2 linked regions of the Homo sapiens genome follow. The protein of the gene in region 1 purifies or fractionates together with the protein of each later gene. This does not show direct contact. Each region holds a gene or a part of one and is shown in the gene's direction. Other genes may lie near its edges.

The links. The genes of interacting proteins can lie anywhere in the genome.
Region 2: the proteins of ANKLE2 (region 1) and PPP2CB purify together in Homo sapiens (affinity purification with mass spectrometry; 6 studies listed by BioGRID and IntAct, with this or other methods). This does not show direct contact.

Annotation. Positions count from the first base shown.
Region 1 is NC_000012.12:132,748,090-132,751,843, reverse strand, and holds part of ANKLE2 (ankyrin repeat and LEM domain-containing protein 2), read left to right. Parts: intron 1-994; coding exon 995-1,201; intron 1,202-3,512; coding exon 3,513-3,706; intron 3,707-3,754. UniProt on the Homo sapiens protein: Involved in mitotic nuclear envelope reassembly by promoting dephosphorylation of BAF/BANF1 during mitotic exit.
Region 2 is NC_000008.11:30,785,146-30,788,899, reverse strand, and holds the end of PPP2CB (serine/threonine-protein phosphatase 2A catalytic subunit beta isoform), read left to right. Parts: intron 1-2,592; coding exon 2,593-2,665; 3' UTR 2,666-3,284; downstream 3,285-3,754.

The DNA of each region.
Region 1 (3,754 bases):
CAGCCGGGTACAGTGGCTCATGCCTGTAATCCCAGCACTTTGGGAGGCTGAGGTGGGCAGGTCACCTAAGGTCAGGAGTTCAAGACTAGCCTGGCCAACATGGTGAAACCCCGTCTCTACTAAAAATACAACAATTAGCCAGGCATGGTGGCCGGTGCCTATAATCCCAGCTACACGGGAGGCTGAGACGGGAGAATCGCTTGGACCTGGGAGATGATGGTCGCAGTGAGCCAAGATCACACCACTGCACTCCAGCCTCGGCAGCTGAGTGAGACTCCATGTCAAAAAAAAACAGCCATTCCCGGCTGGGCGCCGTGGCTGACACCTGTAATCCCAGCACTCTGGGAGGCCGAGGCGGACAGATCACCTGAGGTCAGGAGTTTGAGACCAGCCTGGCCAACATGATGAAACCCCGTCTCTACTAAAAATACAAAAAATTAGGCATGGTGGCGGATGCCCATAATCCCAGCTACTCGGGAGGCTGAGGCGGGAGAATCGCTTGAACCTGGGAGGCAGAGGTTGCAAGAGCCAAGATCGTGCCACTGCACTTGAGCTTGAGCGACAGAGCGAGACTCCGTCTCCAAAAAAAAAAATAAAGTAAAAAATAAAAAGGCGTTCCCTGTTCAAAATTGTGTTTAAAATTCTCTTATGTTCTTGGCTGACATAATTATAGTTTTTTTTTTTAATTTGCCTTTTAATAATTTTTATTTAGATCTTTATATGAAATTTAGTTTTTAGGATAGAATCTTGGCATATAGAATTACATATATGAACATAATATATATCATGTTACATGCATATATGCACACTGTCGAGCTTGTTAATTGTTCTATTTTGGCTAGCTTAGGCCCTTTTTCTTCAGGATTAAAGATCTGAACTAAGCCAGGCGACTGGGTAGCAGATGTGGAAGCTGATGGTTAGGCCCAGGGCATGGCCAGGTGACAGCTCTCCAGTCACTCTTCTCTGATTTTCATTTGTTACTTTTCTTACCCAGAAAGGATCTATGTTTATGAAAATAAAAAGGAAGCATTGCAAGCTGTCAAGATGATCAAAGGGTCCCGATTTAAAGCTTTTTCTACCAGAGAAGACGCTGAGAAATTTGCTAGAGGAATTTGTGATTATTTCCCTTCTCCAAGCAAAACGTCCTTACCACTGTCTCCTGTGAAAACAGCTCCACTCTTTAGCAATGACAGGTTGAAAGGTAAATCATGCAGCCGTTCACATCTTGATGTTCCTGTCACATTGATCCCACCCTGTTTTGTGCCTTCTTTCCTCTGATGTGGTAACTTGTTTTCTCCATGAGGGTAGAGTCGATGGGGTCTCAGTGGACCAGGAGGCCATGCTGGCTCTGATGCTCGTGTAATTAGCATCTTGACTCTGGAGAAGCTGAAAAGAACGCTGTGGCCGCTTCCATCTGTCCCCGTGTCTGTTGGATTTTTTTCTTTTTTTTTTGTAAAGAGACAGGGTCTTGTTCTTTTGCCAGCCTGGAGTGCAGTCTGGTGCTATCATGGCCCACTGCAGCCTCAAACTCCTGGGCTTAAGCAATCCACCTGCTTTAGCCTCCCAAGTAGCTGAGAAATAGGCGTGCACCACCACACCCAGCTAATTTAAACTTTTTCTTTTTTTTTTTTTTTTTTTTGAGATGGAGTCTTGCTCTGTCGCCCAGGCTGGAGTGCAGTGGTGCGATCTTGGCTCACTGCAAGCTCCACCTCCCGGGTTCAAGCGATTCTCCTGCCTCAGCCTCCCGAGTAGCTGGGATTACAGGTGCACACTGCCACACCCGGCTAATGTTTGTATTTTTAGCCACCATGTTGGCCAGGCTAGAATTTAAACTTTTTTTATGGAGACAGGGTCTTGCCATGTTGCCAAGGCTGGTTGAATTGCTGGCATCAAGTGATCCTCCCATCTCAGCCTCCCAAAGTGCTGGGATGACAGGCGTGAGCCCCTGCGCCTTTTTGGATCCTGAAACCAGTCTACTTCCCCACCTGAAGCTATACCTACTTCAAGGACTAGGGCATCTGGAGAAGGCGGGCTTATCTGTAGGAGCGGTCCAGCCCGAAGTCTGACCCATGCCCACCTCCCAGCTCAGAACTAGGGTTTTGTGTGAAGAGGCTCTTCACGGTCAGTGTGGGGTAGAACCTCCGCCTTTACCTTTCATCTGGCCTCAGTTCCTGCTCCCTCTCGCAGCTCACAGTTGTCTGGGCTTCCCTGGCGGGCTGGTACTCCAGAGGAATGTTGCCCTCTCCTTCCAGTCATCCGCCTGCCCTCAGTCAGCCTTATACAGGTGCTTCCTGGATGGAAACCAGAGTGGCTTCTAACAGGTACGGATTTCCTTCTTTGCAATTTGTGAGGATTCCTCAGAAGGAAATCACCTTAAGACAGAAATCAGGCCGGGCGAGGTGGCTCACGCCTGTGATCCCAGCACTTTGGGAGGCTGAGGCGGGTGGATCATCTCAGGTCAGGAGTTTGAGACCAGCCTGGCCTACATGGTGAAACCCCGTCTCTATTAAAAATACGAAAATTAGCTGGCCGTGGTGGCAGGTGCCTGTAATCCCAGCTACTTGGGAGGCTGAGGCAGGAGAATTGCTTGAAACTGGAAGGCGGAGGTTGCAGTGAGCTGAGATCGCGCCACTGCACTCCAGCCTGGGCGAAAGAGCAAAACTGCGTCCCCCCCAAAAAAATCAGCTGGGCGTGGTGGCAGGCTCCTTAATCCTGTAATCCTTTGCAGCCACACTGTGCACATCGAAGGTCTTGCGTGATTTCTGGGAGTGTTCCCTTGCCCGCTGCTGCCGTTATTCCTCCTCCACCTACTGACCGAGCTTTCAGAGTTCACTGGCCGGGTGTGGTGACTCGTCCCTGTAATTACAACACTTTTGGGGGCTGAGGCAGAAGGATCCCTTGAAGCCAGGAGTTTGAGACCAGCCTGGGCAACATAGACCTCATCTCTAAAAATACGTGTGTATATATATATATATATATATATGTATATAAGCCAGGCGTGTTGGCATACAACTGTAGTCCCAGCTACTTGAGGGCCTGAGATCACTTGAGCCCAGGAGGTCGAGGCTGCAGTGAGCTATATTCGTGCCACCACACTCCAGCCTGGGTAACAGAGCCAGACCCTGTCTCTGAAAAAACACAAAGTTCACCAAACTTGGCCTCATTCACAGAGCCTTTCCCAGCAAGATTGTGGCAGGGTCTGGCTGCTCTTCCACTTGCTGTGCTCATGGGGGCGCGCTGGCTGCCGTTGTAGGCTGGGGCCCCCAGTGAGATTGTGGCCGGGTCTGGCTGCTCTCCCTCACTTGCTCTGCTGACGGGCACGCTGGCTGCCATTGATTGCGTTGCATGCTGGGGCCGGTGGCCGTGGGCCCTTCTCGTCTTTTCTCACCTGTGCCTCCCAGTTGGCCCAGAAGCCTCTGTGGAAAGCTGCTTATCCCTCATCAGAGGGTGCATGGGTGATGAGTGACTTTTGGTGAAACTGATTGTTCTTAAATTCTGTCTCTTACTGACAGATGGTTTGTGCTTGTCGGAATCAGAAACAGTCAACAAAGAGCGAGCGAACAGTTACAAAAATCCCCGCACGCAGGACCTCACCGCCAAGCTTCGGAAAGCTGTGGAGAAGGGAGAGGAGGACACCTTTTCTGACCTTATCTGGAGCAACCCCCGGTATCTGATAGGCTCAGGAGACAACCCCACTATCGTGCAGGTAGGTCTCGGCGGTTCCCTCGGGCAGGTGTGCGGTCCCGGCCGTTCC
Region 2 (3,754 bases), on another chromosome or scaffold:
ATGTTATCTATAATGTCCAATTTTTCAACCACAGATTATAAGACATGGAAAGAACAAGGAAGTGTGACCTCTACACAGGAAAAAACTAAGCAACAGAAACTGTTTCTCTTGGATAGAACAACTAGGCAGGAGATGAAGGCAGGAGAAGACTTGAGCAACACTGTAAACTGACTGTATACCTCATGTCTGTAAAACAACACCCAACAACAGCAGAATACTTTCCTCTCAAGTAAACATGAAACATAGTCATATGCTAGACTGTAAAACATGCCTCAGGCAATTTAAGAAGATTAGATTCTTAAAAGGATATTCTCCAAACACAAGGAAATGAAATTAGAAATCATTAACATGGCTGGATGCTGTGGCTCACACAAGTAATCCCAACACTTTGGGAAGCCAAAGTAGGAGGATCACTTGAGGCCAGCCTGGGCAACATAGGGAGACCCCGTCTCTACAAAAAAATTTAAAAATTAGCCAGGTATGGTGCCAAGCACCTGTAGTCTCAGCTGTATGGGAGGCTGAGATGGAGGATCACTTGAGCCCAGTTGATCAAGGCTGCAATGAGCTATGATCACAGCACTACACTACAGCCTAGGCAACAGAGCAAAGACCCTGTCTCAGAAAGAAAAAAACAAAAAAAAAAACAAGAAGATTTGAAATCAGTAACCTATCTTTATACTTGAGGACCTAGAAAAAGCAGAGTAAACTAAACCTGATGTAAGCTTATGAAACGAGGTTTAGAGTAGAAATAAACAAACAGTAGAAAATCATTACAGAAAAATCAACAAAACCCAAAGTTGATGCTTTGAAAAGCCTTAACTAGACTGGCCAAGAAAAAAAGGAGTAAAGACTCACATTACCAAATCACTAGAGACCTTACTGAAATAAAAAGGATTATAAGGGAATACAATAAATAACTATATGCCAGCAAATTCAGTAACTTTGATAAAACGTACTAATTCCTAAAAAGAAACTACTGAAACTGACTCAAGAAATATGAAATCTGAATGACCTTTCAAATGTGAAAATATTGAGCCAGCATGGTGGCTCACACCTATAAATCCCAGCTTTGGGAGGCCAAGCTGAGAGGATTGCTTGAGACTAGGAGTTTGAGACCAGCCTGGACAACATAGCAGGACCTTGTCCCTATTTAATTTAAAAGAATATAAATAAATGAGTGAAAAAGTTAAAACTCCCCACAAATAAAAGGCCAAGCCCAATTGGCTTCATTGATGAAGTCCACCAAATGTTTAAAGAAAGGAATTGGCCAGGTGCGGTGGCTCTAACCAGTAATCCTAGCACTTTGGGAAGCCAAGGCAGGCAGATTGAGCCCAGGATTCAAGATCAGCCTGGGTAACATGGTAAAACCCTGTATCTACAAAGAATACAAAAATTAACCTGGTGTGGTGGCTCAGCCTATAGTCTCAGCTACTCAGGAAGCTGAAGTGGGAGGATCACCTGAGCCCAGGGAGGTTGAGGCTACAGTGAGCCATGATCACACCACTGCACTCCAGCTTGGGCAACAGAGTGAGACCCTGTCTCAAAAATAAAAACGAGTTAATGCCAATCCTTCACAAACACTTCCAAAAAACAGAAGAGGAGGACTACTGCATTCATTCTGTCACACCTGCACTATTATCCTTGATACCAAAAGTAGACAAAGGCAAAAACAGACCAGCATTTGTTACGAATACAGATATAAAATTTTCCAACATACGTACCAGCAACCTGGATCTAGCAATATGTAAAAAGATTATACACCATGAGCAAGTGGGATTTATCCCAGGAATGCTAGGTTGGTTCAAAACATGAAAATCAATATAATAAACCATATTAATATTAAGGGATTAAAAAACACATGATCATCTCAATAGAGGCACAAAAATAATTGGAAAAATCCACTAGCCAGAAACACTCAAGAAAATAGTGATATTAGGCCTGGCGCGGTGGCTCACGCCTGTAATCCCAGCACTTTGGGAGGCCGAAGCGGGTGGATCATGAGGTCAGGAGATGAGACCATCCTGGCTAACACGGTGAAACCCCGTCTCTACTAAAAAAAAATAAGAAAATTAGCCGGGCATGGTAATGGGTTCCTGTAGTCCCAGCTACTCAGGAGGCTGAGGCAGGAGAATGGTATGAACCCAGGAGGCGGAGCTTGCAATAAGCCGAGATCGTGCCAGTGCACTCCAGCCTGGGCGACAGAGCAAGACTCTGCCTCAAAAAAAAAAAAAAAAAAAGTGATATTATTATTATTATTAAATAATATTAAACAATTATTGTTTAATTATTTAAACTTGATATTATTTAATCTTTAATTATTTAAGCTTTTAAATAATAATAACATTTAGAAATTGTTATGCCAGGCACCAAACCAGACATTCTGTCTTCTTAAATTTTCACCATAGCCCTATGAAGCAGTTAGTTGGAATGGGAGCATCTGCAGTGATTTGCCCATGGCCATTCCAGCCGTAAGTGATGTAGTCATGGTGGGAAAGCAGGACTGCTGTTTCTACTACAGTGTCTTGTTCTTTATTCATTTGTTTTCTTTGCAAAGTCAGATCCTTTATTTGCTTCCTTTTTTGCCATTTACAGCCTTCAATTTGACCCAGCGCCTCGTCGTGGTGAGCCTCATGTTACACGGCGCACCCCAGACTACTTCCTATAAATTTCTCCTGGGAAACCTGCCTTTGTATGTGGAAGTATACCTGGCTTTTTAAAATATATGTATTTAAAAACAAAAAGCAACAGTAATCTATGTGTTTCTGTAACAAATTGGGATCTGTCTTGGCATTAAACCACATCATGGACCAAATGTGCCATACTAATGATGAGCATTTAGCACAATTTGAGACTGAAATTTAGTACACTATGTTCTAGGTCAGTCTAACAGTTTGCCTGCTGTATTTATAGTAACCATTTTCCTTTGGACTGTTCAAGCAAAAAAGGTAACTAACTGCTTCATCTCCTTTTGCGCTTATTTGGAAATTTTAGTTATAGTGTTTAACTGGCATGGATTAATAGAGTTGGAGTTTTATTTTTAAGAAAAATTCACAAGCTAACTTCCACTAATCCATTATCCTTTATTTTATTGAAATGTATAATTAACTTAACTGAAGAAAAGGTTCTTCTTGGGAGTATGTTGTCATAACATTTAAAGAGATTTCCCTTCATTTAAACTAAATTACTGTTTTATGTTGATCTGCATATTTCTGTATATTTGTCATGACAGTGCTTGCATCCTATTTGGTGTACTCAGCAAATAAACTTTTCATTTTAAACAAAAACATTCATTTATTGTGTTGTGCATTAAATGAAAACTTTATTTTTTCTAGACCAGGTCTTGCTCTGTCATCTGGGCTGGAGTGCAGTGGCACAGTCATAGCTCACTTCAACCTTGAACTCCTGAGCCCAAGCCATTCTCCTCCCTCAGCCTCCTGAGTAGCTGGGACTACACTCAACATACCACCACACCCAGCTAATTTGTAAAATATTTTGTAGAGACGGGATCTTGTTATGTTGCCCAGGCTGGTCTTGAACTCCTGGCCTCAAGTGGCCCTGCCAAATTCTTGAGATTATAGATGTGTGCCATCACACCTGGCCTGCTATCTTGAAACGACATAAAATCTTTCAAAGCAGGGCAATGGGACATGGCTATAGTCCCAGCTACTCAGGAGGCTGAGGTGGAGGATGGCTTGAACCCAAGAGCTTGAGGGCAGCCTGGGCAACATAGCAAGATGTCATCTCTAAAAAATAA